Regions from separate parts of the Homo sapiens genome. Here region 1 is linked to region 2. A link means that fine-mapping ties the variant in region 2 to the expression of a gene that starts in the linked region. Tissue or cell type: thyroid. Region 2 holds a variant in brackets; the other region holds the start of a gene. All regions are shown on one strand. Distances are from middle to middle.

The links. PIP is the estimated chance that this variant, and not a neighbour inherited with it, causes the effect.
Region 1: it holds the start of KHDC1, and the variant in region 2 is fine-mapped to the expression of KHDC1 in thyroid (GTEx, PIP above 0.99).

What each region holds. Positions count from the first base shown.
Region 1 is chr6:73,258,647-73,266,734 of GRCh38, reverse strand. KHDC1 (KH domain containing 1) reads left to right here and starts at 3,539. Exons shown (of 4, transcript NM_030568.5): 1 at 3,539-3,961. All of the region lies in intron 2 of LOC122539213 (KHDC1-KHDC1L), which reads left to right. It also overlaps the pseudogene KHDC1-AS1. RefSeq lists a silencer at 3,426-3,695.
Region 2 is chr6:73,318,534-73,326,638 of GRCh38, reverse strand. It overlaps the pseudogene SDCBP2P1. Among named protein-coding and RNA genes, the nearest start is that of C6orf147, 12 kb to the right of the region's middle. The variant A/G (reference allele first, on the strand shown) is at 4,761.

The sequences.
Region 1 (8,088 bases), 60 kb after region 2:
GCATATGCTTTTGGAGTCATATCTGAGAAATCATTGCCAAATCTAACATCATGAAGCTTTTGCCCTGTGTTTTCTTCTAACAGTTTTACATTTAGGTCTTTGATCCACTTTAAGTTCTGTATCTGGTATAAGGTAAGGAGGCCAACAACATTCTTTTGTATGTGGGTATCCAGCTTTCCAAGTACCATTTTTTGAAAAGACTGTCCCTCCTCCATCGAATGGTCTTGGCACCCTTGTTGAAACACAGGAGGACTTTAAAGTCAACTCAGATTTCTCAGCTTATTGTCTGGGCTCTTGATAACTGCTTCCTCAGTAAATGACAACATATATCCATGCAGTAGTGCCTATTATATGATAAGGCAAAGACTATTGAGCTAATGAAAGTAAAAAGCTTAGAAGAACACCTGTGGTATGTAGTAAAAAGCTCAACAAATGTTGGTTATTTCATTATTAAGAGTGACATTAGAGTCCAACATCTCCCTTGTTTTCATTAAAGGTTTTAACATATTGCAGAGTTTGTTATATAAGTCAGGCCAAAAGGTACTATACTCTGATCACAACTAATCTTTGGATTTTCCCCCAAGACAGATCCTCATCCACTCCTTTGCTTCTAAGTTTATTTTGCTTCTTATAACAAGTGTTGCACTCAACACCCAAAGATAAACCTTGATCTTAACATATGGCATGCTTTTTGTCAATGCTTTTTGTATGGATACTAAGACCCTTAGGTTGGGTGAGTGTTAGAATGCCATTGCACTGCACTTTAGCCTGGGTAACAAAGCCAGACCTCGTCTCCCCCCAAAAAAAAGAAAAAGAAAAGGGATCTCGCCATGTTGCCCAGGCTGGTCTCAAACTCCTGGTCTCAAGCAATCCTCCCACCTTTGCCTCCCAAAATGTTAGGATTACAGGTATGAGCCACTGCACCCAACCAAAACTTCCACTTCCACTTCACCAAGAAAGTTTCTTTCATTTCAGACTGATTTTCCAAGTGTACTCTAAGAGGGTAACCCTGCCTTTTAGTTGTGTTGATGCCACAACTGTCAGTCTACTTATAAAGTCCAGGATTTAAATGCTAAAGACAAGAGAACCTGAAAAAGGCTTACTCAAACTCCTCTCAGCAAGAGCCCTTAGTCTCCATTCCCACCTTCCTCCAATCCAGCTCACAGTGACCAGTCACGTTACTTTTTTTTTTTTTTTTTTTTTTTTGAGACGGAGTCTCGCTCAGTTGCCCAGGCCAGAGTGCAATGGCACAGTCTTGGCTCACTGCAACTTCCACCTCCCAGGTTCTAGCAATTCTCCTGCCTCAGCCTCCCGAGTAGCTGGGATTACAGGCACCCACCATCATGCCCGACTAATTTCTGTATTTTTGTAGAGATGGGGTTTCACCATGTTGGCCAGGCTGATCTTAAACTCCCGACCTCAGGCAGTGACCTCTTTTCTGTACACCGAATTCCTTCTTCAGTACAGACAGAGTTACTACTTCATTCTTCTCTCAACATTATAATTGTTTTGCGGTTTCTGGGGAGAATTTATCTTACTTATTTCCTTATCTCAAAGGCCTATGCAGAACAGCTAAATAGGTAACTGATGAGAAATATACTACTAGACAAACTCTAACACTCACTCAACCTAAAGGTCTTAGAAATTTGTTCTGTGACATTTTATTGAAACTACACCCTGCATCCAACCAAAAGTAAGGGCTGAATGACTCCTTTTATCCTAGAGTGCACTAGTCTCTGGGGTATACATGCACTCCTCAATCAGTTCTCAGATGATTCTGCCTCTAAGAGCAGCAGAAACTACAGGTAATCATCTCCGGGCTTACTTGAAGTTGTGTGCTCATTCCAAAATCTGCCTTGCTCACTCAAGAGTCCAGGTATCACTGGCCTTCGAGGTCATTAGGCAGCATCCAGTCTTTGAAGCAAACCATTCCAGGTTTTTGACTCTGCTTTCCTGTCAATGTCAGCTAGAGGAACTCTTCTCCCTGCCTTGGCCCTGGCTGGTCCTGGTTCCACTCTGGCTCATTTGCTTCCACACCTGGCCTATGATACCACATGACTAATTCCTTCCTGTGTGCCTCTGGCCCAGGCTTGCCAAAGGAATGCACTCAGAGCAGCTCTACCTATTCCTGTCCATCAGTTGCTGGTTGCGCACTGGCACTGCACATACCTGCTCCACAGAATCTTAAACCTTCAGGACTCTACCTGCTCACAGGTCCTGGGTTCCTACAGGCGTTCTTCATCAAGGGTGGGGCCACAGCTTTGCCCCAAGAGGGCAACCTGCCTCCTTGTTCCTGTACTGGCTTGAGACTCCTAGGCTGTGTCTGAACTAGCTGATAGGCCAGAAGCTTTAGGATGAAAAGAATACTGGAGGAGTCCTCAAAGTTAGAACTTTTATTGGTGTCTGTGTCCCCTCACTCATCTTAGCTATCTTGACCCTTCCCTACTTACCTTAATGATTTCGTGATTTCAATGAAAAAGACGCAACCTAGATAAGATTGCAAGGTCCCATACCTTCCTGGGGGCAGAGTTGACCTCAGACAGGGTCTTGCTTTGTTGCCCAGGCTGGAATGCAGTGGCGTGATCTCAGCTCACAGCAGCCTCAAACTCTCGGGCTCAAGCAATCCTCCCACCTCAGCTTCCCATATAGCTTGGGCTACAGGCGTGCACCACCATGCCCAGCTGATTTTTAAATTTTTTGTAGAGACAAGTTCTCCCTCTGTTGCCCCAGCTGGTTTCGAACTCCTGGGCTCAAGCGATCCTTGCTCTTTGGCCTCCCAAAGTGTTGGGATTACAGGTGTGAGCCACTGTGCCCAGCCCGACCTTTTGTTAATACTCCCATCTAATTGTCCAAACGGACTTGAACAAAAGAATCTTCTTCCCAATACTGCCAGGGAGGGCAAAATTCTTCAAATTCATGTTTGAGGCCATAAACGAACAGGAGTAAAATGGAATCCGCAGGAAGCAATGACAAGAAACCCAAAAACATTCATTTCCCTCCAGCCCAAGTGGCAGATGGGATCTCAAATACACCACGGTGTGATGCGTGACAGGAGGCATCCACTGGGGATGTGGAGCATTTTAAGTGCCCTGCAGAGGGTGGGCCTGGGTCACCCCCCCCCCCACCGCGACACCCCTCCCCAGGCAACATTCCTGGGGAGTCTGGACCTCCCTTGGTGGACCGACACCCGAGGGTCTCTAGGGTTTTTCACCCCATATCGGGGTGAACTGAAGGCATGGGAAGAGGCAGCCCCACAGCCTGGGTCCCCAAAACCCCCTCCGGGCTGAGAGCAAGAGATGCCGCCTGGAGGCCACTCACCAAGCAGCTCCGCTGGCTCAGCAATGGGGGTCGTCCGGGTCTGGGTCATTGCCACTGGCTCGTCCCTCCTCCCACCCTTGCTTCCTGGACTCAAGAGCTGCTGGGCTCTCTGCGCGCCGGCAGTGGGCTCCGCAGGCTGTCTCCTACACAGAGCAGGCGGGAGGAGGGCTCTGGGTTGCTTCCCGCGCCGCAGCCGCGCGCTTCCGGCGGGGTCGCCGCCACTTCCGCTCGAGCGCGCCTCGCGCGGCCGCGGCGCGAGCCGGGACCCCTGGAAGGGTCGGGTGCGCGGCCCAGGAGGTACCGCTGTCTCCTCACAATCGGCCAGGCCTGCAGCCGCTGCCGCCGCTGCCGCCGCCGCCGCCGCCGCCGCCGCCGCCCTACTCAGGGAGTGGCCCAGGCCTGCGGCGCGCCACCCTCACCTCCTTCATTCCTACCGTCAAAGCCCAGCCTTGGCTACCTGACCCCCCTGTGGTCTCGAACTCGGTTAGTCCGGTGAAGGGACAGAGAAGCCTGGGTTCCCGGCGGCATCACTGAGATGCTCAGTCCTGAATTCTGCCCTCCATTAGGATTATCTGCTTTGTGGGATAATTTCCTCATTGGTTGAGTCAGTGAGTTGCGTGTCTGCAAGAGAGCATCCTATCTGGTGGGTCTTCATCTAGATCTTGCACATTTCTTACTAAGTTCATCCTAAGAATATCTTACAGATAAGGAAAGTGAGCTGCAAAGAAGTGTAAAAACAGGGGAAACAGGAGATAGCAGTATAAAGAGAAAAATTAAAACAGATCGTGTGACTTTCCTCTATTGTTAATTGATTTGGGGACATTTTAAACTTATAGAAAGAAAAGAAACACGGGTTTTGTTGACACATCTCAAAACAAAATGGGTGTAACACCTTTAAAATGTAAACTATTGTGCTGGATATGTTTGTATTATTTTGAAGTCATTTAAAGTAATCGCATGAGGTGTTGCCTGCTGTTGGACCAGTAGTTTCTTTTTAGTATTCAAGCAAAGGCATAGTGAGGAAATAGTAAGAAAAAAAGAAGGAATGCTGTAACAGGAAACAAGGGAAAGGAGGAGCAGAGGAAAAGGGCAGGAAAGGTTTAACATTTACGTAGCACTTGCTATGCACCAGACACTTTTAAGCTCTTTAAATGTATTAACTCCTCTAGTTCTCACCACAGCCCTATGAAATGGGTATACTATTATCACCTCTGGTTTACAAAGAAGGCAAGTGAGGTCAAGAGAGGTTAAGCAACTGGCCCAAGGTTACACCGTAAGTGGCAAAACCTTTGCTTGAGCACATCAATTTGGCCCTAGAGTCTATGCTTTTTTTTTTTTGAGAAGGGCCTCTTTCCTGCTGCCTAGGCTGGAGGGCTGTGGCACCATCATGGCTCACTGCAGCTCCAACCTGCCGGGCTCAATGAATTCTCTCACCTCAGCCTCCTGAGTAGCTGAGACCGCAGGCACATACCACCTTGCCCAGCTAGGCTTTTTTTTTTTTTTTTGAGATGGAGTCTTGCTCTGTCACCCAGGCTGGAGTGCAGTGGTGCGATCTTGGCTCACTGCAACCTCTATCTCCCGGGTTCAAGTGATTCTCCTGCCTCAGCCTCCCGAGTAGCTGGGATTACAGGTGCCTGCCACCATGCCCAGCTAATTTTTGTATTTTTAGCAGAGACGGGGTTTCACCACCTTGGCCAGGCTGGTTTCAAACTCCTGACCTCATGATCCACCCGCCTTGGCCTCCCAAAGTGCTGGGATTACAGGCGTGAGCCACCACTCCCAGCCTATTTTTTTTTTTGGTATTTTTTTTATAGTGACAGGGTTTCACCATATTGCCCAGGCGGGTCTCAAATTCCTGGGCTCAAGGGGTCCGCCCGCCTCGACCTCCCAAAGTGTTGGGATTACAGGTGTGAGCCACTGTGCCTGGTCCTAGAGTCTATGCTTATTTTTTTAAAAAAAATTTTATTTATTTATTTATTTTTTGAGACAGAGTCTAGCTCTGTCACCAGGCAGTGGCGTGATCTTAGCTCACTGCAATCCCCGCCTTCTGGGTTCAAGCCATTCTCGTGCCTCAGCCTCTCAAGTAGCTGGGATTACAGGCATGCGCCACCATGCCCAGCTAATTTTTGTATTTTTAGTAAAGACGGGGTTTCACCATGTTGGCCAGGCTGGTCTCAAACTCCTGACCTCAGGTAATCTGCTCACCTTGGCCTCCCAAAATGCTGGGATTACAGGTGTGAGCCACCATGCCTGGCCTATGCTTCTAATCACCACACTATATTTCCTCTAAAGAGAGGGCAAGACTTGAATCAACTGGATTTGATGCTACTGAGTAGGAGTAGACAAGAGAGGTTTGCAAGGTAATTACTCTTCCATGATGTGAGATTATGGGCTAAAATGTTTCATAGAACAAAAATGCCATGAATAAAGTTTAAAAAGAGGAAACATACAGTGCACAAAGAATTAACATCTGGAATAGATAGTGAAAACAAATATATATAAGAAAAAGACAACCCTACAGAGAAATGGGCAAATGTATAAATAGACAATAGATGAAGAAGTAAGAATGAAATAAAACTGACCACATAAAAAAGATGCTTAACTGCACTAGTGATGCTGGCATGCAAAGCAAAAAAATAGAGAGATCCATTTTCTCCCACACTGGCTAAAACTGAAATTTGAAAATATCAATTTTGTGGAAAAGTGAATATTCTTAGTAGAAGTATAAATCAGGATAGCCACTGCTAGGGGTGGGGGTAGATTTGGCAGTATTAATTGAAGTTAAAATATTAAAATTAATCTTTGAAGTAATATTGATTATACTGAAGAACATTGCTTCAGACATTCTAATTTAACTTTTTTATTCTACAGATAAACAGGTGTTCAAAAAGAGGTATGCAAAATATTTAACTGGAAACTTTTTTTGCATAATAGTTTAAAATTAGAAAAATATAATTTCAGCAGGTAAATAAACTATGGTAATAGTTTACTCATTCTCTAAACAAATATTTGTTGATTGCTTACTAGGTATAAGGCATTATTCTGGACATTGAGGATAAATTGACAGTTATCTTTGTGAACTAGAGAAAGATGATAGGGTGGGTTAGGGGCTAATTAACATTCCCCAGCCCAGAGCCTTCCCCTTAATTTTTTTTACATCTTGATAGAATGATTTCAATTTGTTCTGTAAATCACACTGGACTCCCCTGTAATGATTACAGAAAGAAAAATGTTTTTTATATGGATATATGGGTATACCCCAATTTGAAGGCATAAAGGCACAATAGCGGACTCTAAAGTAGGAATGAGGAAAGCTGGAAAGGAGGGGGCTATGCTGATATAGACCATCAAGAAAAGCTTGAAGAGATGTCCCAAATACCCTGATGACTTACTTTTCACTGAAATGCAAAGAAATTGGCATCTTAGATATGCTTCCAAAGATTGTGCCCTACCCCCTGGACAGCTTTTAATGAAGGCAGGACTACAGCAAGAGAAACAGCCAGATAATTGGTTAAAAAGAAAGACTTGCAGGGGCTTGTTTCTTATTATGTTTATATGGTAAATGCCTAGTTAGGACAAAGACAAAGAGCTTGAACATGGTTTGCTCACACTCTCCCTGGTGAATAGATTCAATTACAAAAGAGATTGATGTCTCAACCATAGCAAAAACCTTGTCAAGCTCTCAACTGAGACCACAACATGCTTGTTTAAAAGTGTGGAGAAGGGGCCAGGAGAGGAAACAACATGACAAGGAGTTTATAAATCTAAAGGATGACTTTCTTGCTGCATGTAACTAGTATGTGACTGCTTCTGCATTCCCTTCGATCTATCCTTGGCTTTCTCAATGTGAATATTTTTGTTCTAAAAATTGGGGACCAAATCTGGTCCTCTCAAGGAGAAGTAAGAAGAACCCCAATGTCTTTCTTCTTCCAGCTAATTTAAAATAATTGGATTTAGCCAGGTGTGGTAGTGCATGGCTGTAGTCCTAGTTATTCAGGAAGCTAGGGCAGGAGGATGGCTTGAGCCCAGGAACTCCAGGCTAGTGCACTATAACTGCACCTATGAATAGCCACTGCACTCCAGCCTGGGCGACAGAGCGAGACTCCGTCTCAAAAAAAAAAAAAAAAAAAAAAAAAGCATATTGGATTTGTCAGCAGAAAGCCTTCCAAAATGAGGAAAGATGGGACCTGGACTTGAGTGCCAACTCTAGAATCACTTTCATAGCCACACGGGAAAGTAAAACACTATCTGAATCTCAAAATATTCTGTCTTAAGCCACCAGGTTCCCTTAAGAGCATGTTGGTCCCAGTATTGCCCTGGTGGTGAGTAGGAAGAAGCAGGCCCCAGGGAATTTGTGTAAGGCTCCTGAGCAGCAGATTCTATTAAAAATTCTTCCTGCAAGCCCTGCCCTTGCAATTACTGCCATTCCTCTCACCAGTGGGCTCCCGTTGGGTCAGGCCTCTAGCCCTAGCCACTCAAAGCTTGAGACCATAGTAGGCAGCCCAATAGGCCCTTCCAGACAGTCTCCATCTGCTGGATGAGCAGCTCACCTGTGTCTTAGGGAAAGGCAGAAGGCTCACAGCCTTGCACTCAGGCACATTAACTTATGTGATCCAGCAACTGCTGGGAATTAGGAATGATTAATACCATTTTACAGGTAGGGAAACTGATGCTGAGAGATAGATACCTTTTCTGAGGTCACACAGAAGTGCTTTTTGAATCTAGGTTTCAGAGTTGATCACTCCCTCCACCTTCCGCCTTTGGCCCTTG
Region 2 (8,105 bases):
GAAAAGGGAAGAACTTCCAAGTTCATTTACCAATCATCTTTCAGCATAATAACCATCATTTACATAAGGACAAACTTCATTAACTGTGGGAGTCTGGGTACAGTCAGCCTCCTTCTGCAGTTGGTCTAAGATCCTTTAAGGTACTTTGTAGCCAAAGTCAAGAACACTTCATTTTCTTTACCAGGGCCTAAACTGATTGATTGCATCCTTATTTTATTTTGTTTTGTTTTATTTTATTTTATTTTGAGATGGAGTCTTGCTCTGTCACCCAGGCTGGAGTGCAGAGGCATGATCTTGGCTCTCTGCAACCTCCGCCTCCCGGGTTCAAGTGATTCTCCTGCCTCAGCCTCCTGAGTAGCTGGGATTACAGGTGTGCATCACCATTCCCTGCTAATTTTTGTATTTTTAGTAGAGACGGGGTTTCACCATGTTGGTCAGGCTGGTCTTGAACTCCTGACCCCATGATTTGCCTGCCTTGGCCTCCCAAAGTGCTGGGATTACAGGCGTGAGCCACTGCACCTGGCCAGAAGATAAAGATTTTGAAGAACATTTAATTTCCTCATTTCTCCTACCCTCTACCCTGTGGATTGTAAGTTGTAGAAGTTCTTTTTTGGAAGGGAATGGCTCAATACTTGAGTGCCGTGCTCTCCTAGTTGTCATTTATCAAACTATTATTCTCATATATAGGAAGAATTGTCACATTTTTTCTCATATGTAGGAAGAACAGCCATGAGTCAGCTTGCTGAGTCTGATTGGTCCAAGGGCTTCCTGGCACACTGAACCCCAGCCATGCGGAACTCCAGCTCTGTAGAAGAGGAGCAGCTATCACAGCAGTTTGAGTAATTGCAGACAAAGGTGAAGCAAGAAGAGAACAATATCAACAACTAGCAATGATAAAAAAAACAACCTAAATTTACCTGGAACTTTTTTTTCTTCTTTTTTTTTCATGGAGTTTCGCTCTCATTGTCCAGGCTAGAGTGCAATGGCACTATCTTGGCTCACTGTAACCTCCGCCTCCCATGTTCAAGCGATTCTCTTGCCTCAGCCTCCCGAGTAGCTGGGATTACAGGTGCCCACCACCACGCCCGGCTAATTTTTGTATTTTTAGTAGAGATGGGTTTTCGTCATGTTGGCCAGGCTGGTCTCGAACTCCTGACCTCAGGGGATCTGCCTGCCTCAGCCTCCCAAAGTGCTGGGATTACAGGCGTGAGCCACTGCGCCTGGCCTACCTGGCACCTTTATGAACCTGGGAAGTTTTGCAGTTTTATTCTCTGTTAAATGCATATCTGTTGAGCTTTTTCTGTTATTAAAATGTATTCCAAGATTTCTATTTTTTTTTTTTTTTTTGAGACGAAGTCTTGCTCTGTCACCCAGGCTGGAGTGCAATGGCGCGATCTCAGTTTACTGCAAACTCTGCCTCCCAGTTCAAGCAATTCTCCTGCCTCAACCTCCTGGGTAAGTGGGATTACAGGTGCCCACCACCATGCCCGGCTAATTTTTTTATTTTTAGTAGAGATGGGATTTCATCATGTTGGCCAGGCTGGCCTCAAACTCCTGATCTCAGGTAATCCACCCACCCTGGCCTCCCAAAATGCTTGGATTATAGGCATGAGCCACGGTGCCCAGGCTTAATGCTGTATTTTTTAATACACACACAGTAGAGAAGGATATAAGATGACAAGTAAAATACCCCTTCTTAACCTACTCTCAAGCTTTTTTCCTTTCCGTATCTGGCTATAGAATTTGAACTCATTCTTTTTTTTTTTTTTTTTTTTTGATATGGAGTCTTGCTCTGTCGCCCAGGCTGGAGTGCAGTGGCAATCTTGGCTCACTGCAAGCTCCACCTCCTGGGTTCACACCATTCTCCTGCCTCAGCCTCCCAAGTAGCTGGGACTACAGGTGCCCGCCACCATGCCCAGCTAATTTTTTTGTATTTTTAGTAGAGATGAGGTTTCGCTGTGTTAGCCAGGATGGTCTTGATCTCCTGATCTCATGATCCGCCTGCCTTGGCTTCCCAAAGTGCTGGGATTACAGGAGTGAGCCACCGCGCCCGGCAGAACTCATTCTTTTTTTAAAAAAAATTAATTATTTTTTTTTTACTTTCTATAACAAAATATTTCAGACAAAGATAGAGGGACCAGTGTAATGAACTTAATTTACCTATTATCTAGCTTCACCTGTTATCAATAATCTTGTTTTTATCATATTTCCCATATCCAGATTGAAGCAAATTCTAGACATCACATCATTTTTTAAAAATTAAAATTAAATTTATTATTATTATTGTTTTTATAGAGGTGAGGGTCTCACTATGTTGCCCAGGCTGGTCCCAAACTCCTGGGCTCAAGTAATCCTCCTATCTTGGCCACCCAAAGTGCTGGGATTATAGGCATGAGCCACTGCATCTGGCCCACATAATTTCATTTGTAAGTATTTTATAATTATTCAATTTTTATTAATAGATTTTAGGTTTTAGAAGTTCTTTTTAAGTTTGTTTACAACAAAATCTTTATTCAAAAGACTGTAAAAGGTTATAATTATTATAGTCGGACAAAGAGCAAATAAAGGCAAATAAAAAGTTCTCAGAATGTAGTTTCCTTCTTTTAAAATATGTAACTGTTTTCTTGGGATTCAATTGCACGTTTAAGTGTTTAGCCAGCCTGCTTCCATGCCCAGCAGTTAAGCCAGCACAGAAGGTCAAGTGTGAGCATGGTGGCTCATGCCTGTAATCCCAGCACTGTGGGAGGCTGAGGTGGGAGGATTGCTTGAGTCCAGGAGTTTGAGACCAGCCTGGGAAACTTAGTGGGACCCTATTTCTACATAAACTAAAAAAAAAAAAAAAAAAAAAAAAAAAAAAAGCACAGTGTGATAGCATGCGCCTATAATCCCAGCTACTCGGGAGGCTGAGGTGGGAGGATTGCTTGAGCCCTGAAATGCAAGGCTGCAGTGAGCTATGATCGGTTGCCTGTGGGCCCTGCCCAAGCCTCAGCCCAGCTAGGAGTATGAGGCTTTAAGGAGGCCTGTGTGTACAAATGACAGACTCACACCATCTGATGTCCACCCATCTGGAATACATCCCCTCAACAAAGCCTTGTCCTGGGGCAGCAGGCAGGCTGCAACCTGTCATTCAAGAGTGGCTGGCCTTTCCTGCAGGAGGGTGGGAGGGCCTAAGCTGCCCTCCTGTGGCTTCAGGCATCTGGGATGAAGTGGTCCATATGTGGTGGCGATGGGTCAGGGAAAACTTTTTGACTATGTGCTCATAGATCACAGTGGGGATGATGATCAGGGTGACAATGTTCCTGGCTGTGGCCAGAATCTCTGAGATCTCTTTCAGCCCAATGACACTCTGCACAGTGCTTGTTAAACGTTCTTGAACCTGGCACACATGGTGGTTGGTGAAGAGTCCTTGAGGACCACAGAGCTCCCTTTGACCACAGGGAAGACCTTTCCCTTCTTGATGATGAAGCCACCATGGCTTGTGCTGTCCTTGTGCATGGTGACAATCCACTGGACTATCCTGTCCTGAATGACCATAACAATCTTCTTGGCCAATTCCCTCTCACATCTGCCAGATGGGCTTTTTCCATGTTCCACTTGGCACAGTCATGCCCATCAATCTGTAGGATTTGGTCCCCAAAGCACAGCAGCATGAGGGATGCAGTGGTGTTGGCCTGGACCACCTCACCTGCACAAAGAGCCCCTTGTTGGTGGTCTGCAGCTGCAGCCCAGTCTTGCCATGTTTGTCTTTGCACAGGTGGATGTTGTGTACCTGGGCCTTGATCTCATACCACATGCCCAGGCTGTTCCTCCACCCCCTGGGCTGGCTAGGAAACTGAGACAGCAGTTTGCAGACACCAGGGGTGCAGGGGGTCAGCCTGGCCTATGGGACCTAGTGCTTCAGAGGTTACTGGGAAGCAGGGGTAAGGGTGGGGAAAGGAGGACAGAGCGGTTCCTGGGCCCAATTTCATTCTCAGACCACACACTTCACTGAAAAGTTTTAAATTAAAAAAAAAATTGAGCAGATAGTACCATTCCATACTACATAATCCCAGTTTCCCCTGTTAATGACATCCCATATTATTTATTTATTTTTTTTTGTCACCCAGGCTGGAGTGCAATGGTGTGATCTCCACTCACTACAACCTTCGTCTCCCGGGTTCAAGTGATTCTCCCACCTCAGCCTCCTGAGTAGCTGGTTCTACAGGCGCATGCCACCACACCTGGCTAATTTTTGTATTTTTAGTAGAGACGGGGTTTCACTATGTTGGCCAGGCTGGTCTTGAACTCCTGACCTCATGATCTGCCCGCCTTGGCCTCCCAAAGTGCTGGGATTACAGGCAGGAGCCACCACGCCTGGCCTAATAACATCCCATATTATTAAGTGTATCATATACATAGTTAACAAATACATTTCTTACAATTAAGAATCAATAGTGATAAAGTTCATACTTACTCAGATTTTCTTTTTTTCTTTCTTTCTTTTTTTTTTTTTTTTTTTTGAGATGGAGTTTTGCTCTTGTTGCCCAGGCTGGAGAGCAATGGTGCGATCTCGGCTCACTGCAACCTCTGGCTTCTGGGTTCAAGAGATTCTCCTGCCTCAGCCTCCCGAGTAGCTGGGATTACAGGCAGGTGCCACCACGCCCGGCTAATTTTTGTATTTTTAGTAGAGACGGGGTTTCTCCATGTTGGTCAGGCTGGTCTTGAACTCCCGACCTCAGGTGATCCACCTGCCTCGGCCTCCCAAAGTGCTGGGATTACAG[A/G]TGTGAGCCACCACATACGGCCTGATTTTTTTCTTATGATTAGACTCAGATTTTAGATTTTTGGAGAGGAAGATCACAGAGATAAAGTACTGTTTTTCTTTTTTTGAGAGTCTTGCTGTGTCACCCAGGCTGGAGTGCAGTGGCATGATCTTGCTCACTGCAAGCTTCACCTCCTGGGTTCAAGCGATTCTTGTGCCTTAGCATCCTGAGTAGCTGGGACTACAGTTGTGCACCACCATGCTGGGCTAATTTTTTTTTTCTTTTTGAGACGGAGTCTCGCTCTGTCGCCCAGGCTGGAGTGCAGTGGCGGGATCTCGGCTCACTGCAAGCTCCGCCTCCCTGGTTCACGCCATTCTCCTGCCTCAGCCTCCTGAGTAGCTGGGACTACAGGCGCCAGCAACCATGCCCGTCTAATTTTTTTTGTATTTTTAGTAGAGACGGGATTTCATCGTGTTAGCCAGGATTGTCTCGATCTCCTGACCTCGTGATCCGCCCGCCTCGGCCTCCCAAAGGGCTGGGATTACAGGCGTGAGGCACTGCGCCCGGCCAACTGGGCTAATTCTTGTATTTTTGGTAGAGATGTGGTTTTACCATGTTGGCCAGGATGGTCTCAAACTCCTGGCCTCAAGCAATCTGCCCGTCTCAGTTTCGCAAAGTGCTAAGATTACAGGCGTGAGTCACTGCGCCTGGCCTAAAGTACCATTTTCATCACATCATATCAAGGGTGCACACTATCAGCATGTTGTATGACTGTTCACATTGATCACCTGGCTAAGGTAGCGTTTGTCAGGATTCTCCACTGTAAAGTTACTCTTCCCCACCCCTTCTCCATTCTGTATTCTTTTGAAGAAAATCAACAGGCACTGCCTACACTTAAGGAGTGAGGAGTTATGCTCTTCCTCTCTTAGGATGAAGTATCTACTTATTTACTTAAGATTTTTCTGCACAGGAGATTCATCTTTTCTTCATATATTAATTTGTGGATTTATTTATACTGATATGAACTCGTGGATATTCTTTTTTAAAAATGCACTTTCATTCTCAGATCGTTGATATTCATTTTACATTTTTGGTATAATCCAATACTTTATTTTTTAAATTATTCCAGGCTGGGCACGGTGGCTCACGCCTGTAATCCCAGCACTTTGGGAGGCTGAGGCGGGAGGATCCCAAGGTCAGGAGTTCGAGACCAGCCTGGCCAACATGGTGAAACCTGTCTCTACTAAAAATACAAAAATTAGCCAGGCATGGTGGTGGGCGCCTGTAGTCCCAGCTACTCAGGAGGCTGAGGCAGGAGAATCGCTTGAACGTGGGAGGTGGAGGTTGCAGTGAGCCGAGATCACACCACTGCACTCCAGCCTGGGTGACAGAATGAGACTCTGTCTCAAAAAAAAAAACAAAACAAAAACTTATTCCAGCTTTGGCTATTGAGAGCTTTTTCCGTTGCTTCTTTTGTTCCTTTGACATACCCCCATCACTCTTTTGTTTTTTTGAGACAGAGTATTGCTCTGTTGCCCAGGCTGGAGTGCAATGGCACAATCTTGGCTCACTGCAGCCTCCGCCTCCGGGTCCAAGTGATTCTCTTGCCTCGGCCTCCAGAGTAGCTAGAGTTACAGGTGTGGACCACCATGCCTGGCTAATTTTTGTATTTTTAGTAGAGATGGGGTTTCATCATGCTGGCCAGGCTGGTCTTGAACTCCTGGCCTCAAGTGACCCACCCGCCTTGGCTGCCCAAAGTGCTGGGATTACAGGCATGAGCCACCATACCCAGCCACTCCATCACTTTTTTTTTGAGCACTTTATTTTCTGGTACTATAATGTGCTCCAGGCTTATTTTGTATATTTCTTGCCCAGTCCTCAAGCCATTTCTCCAAGGAGTTCCTTTAATGGAAAATGGTATTAGAAACCAAAATCTGAGTATTAGGTGTGCTTGTTGCTACCAGGGTGTTGGTTCTTTTAGGCCACCTCTGACAGAGCAAAGAAATATATGTGGCCAACATTGTGAAACCCTGTCTCTACTAAAAATACAAAAATTAGCCAGGTGTGATGGCGGACGCCTGTAATCCCAGCTACTTGGGAGGCTGAGGCAAGAGAATAGCGTGAACCTGGGAGACGGAGGTTGCAGTGAGCTGAGATCGTGCCACTGCACTCCAGCCTGGGTGACAAGGGTGAGACTCCATCTCAAAGAAAAAAAAGAAATATACGTGTGTTTACTAACCTGTGTATATAGAAATATTTTTTTTCTTTTTCTTTTTTTTTTTTTTGAGATGGAGTCTCACTCTGTCACCCAGGCTGGAGTGCAATGGCGTGATCTTGGCTCAGTGCAACCTCTGCCTCCTGGATTCAAGCAACTCTCCTGCCTCAGCCTCCTGAGTAGCTGGGACTACAGGCTTGTGACACCACACCTGGCTAATTTTTTTGTATTTTAGCAGAGACAGTGTTTCACTGTGTTATTAAATTAAAAATGATTTCTTACTGATATCTCCAACTCTAATCCATGACCACATATATCATTCTATGTGGTATAGATCATAGATCATTGCTTATCTGTAAATTCCCAATCCAACAGTGAGAAACCTGGCTCCCACCATCCACCAACCATTTACTTAATTATTCAATTGCAGTATTTTTGTATAGCAGTACATTATTCCCCCCTTACCTGTGAGGGATACATTCCAATATCCCCAAATGCCTGAAACCATGGATAGTATCCAATTCTATATATACTGTTTTTTCTATACAAACATACATACATACCTATGGTAAAGTTTCTTCCTCTCCTCTCCTCTCCTTTCCTTTTTTTTGGAGATGGAGTCTTGCTCTGTCACCCAGGCTGGAGTGCAGTGGTGTGATCTCGGCTCAATGCAACCTCTGCCTCTCAGATTCAAGCAATTCTCCTGCTTCAGCCTCCTGAGTAGCTGGGACTACAGGCTTGTGATACCACGCCTGGCCAATTTTTGTATTTTAGTAGAGACAGTGTTTCACTGTGTTGCCCAGTCTAGTCTTGAACTCCTGAGCTCAGGCAATCTGCCCACCTCAGCCTCCCAAAGTCCTAGGATTACAGGCAAGAGCCACTGTGCCCAGCCTATGTAAGATTCATTTATAAATTAGGCACAGTAAAAGATTAACAATAATGAAATAGAACAATTATAAAATATACTAATATGGTTTGGCTCTGTGTCCCCACCCAAATCTCATCTTGTAGCTCCCATAATTCCTACGTGTGGTGGGAGGCACCCAGTGGGAGATGATTGAATTATGGTTTGGGCGGGGTCTTTCCCATGCTGTTCTCGTGATAGTGAATTGGTTTCATGAGATCTGATGGTTTTAAACACAGGAGTTTCC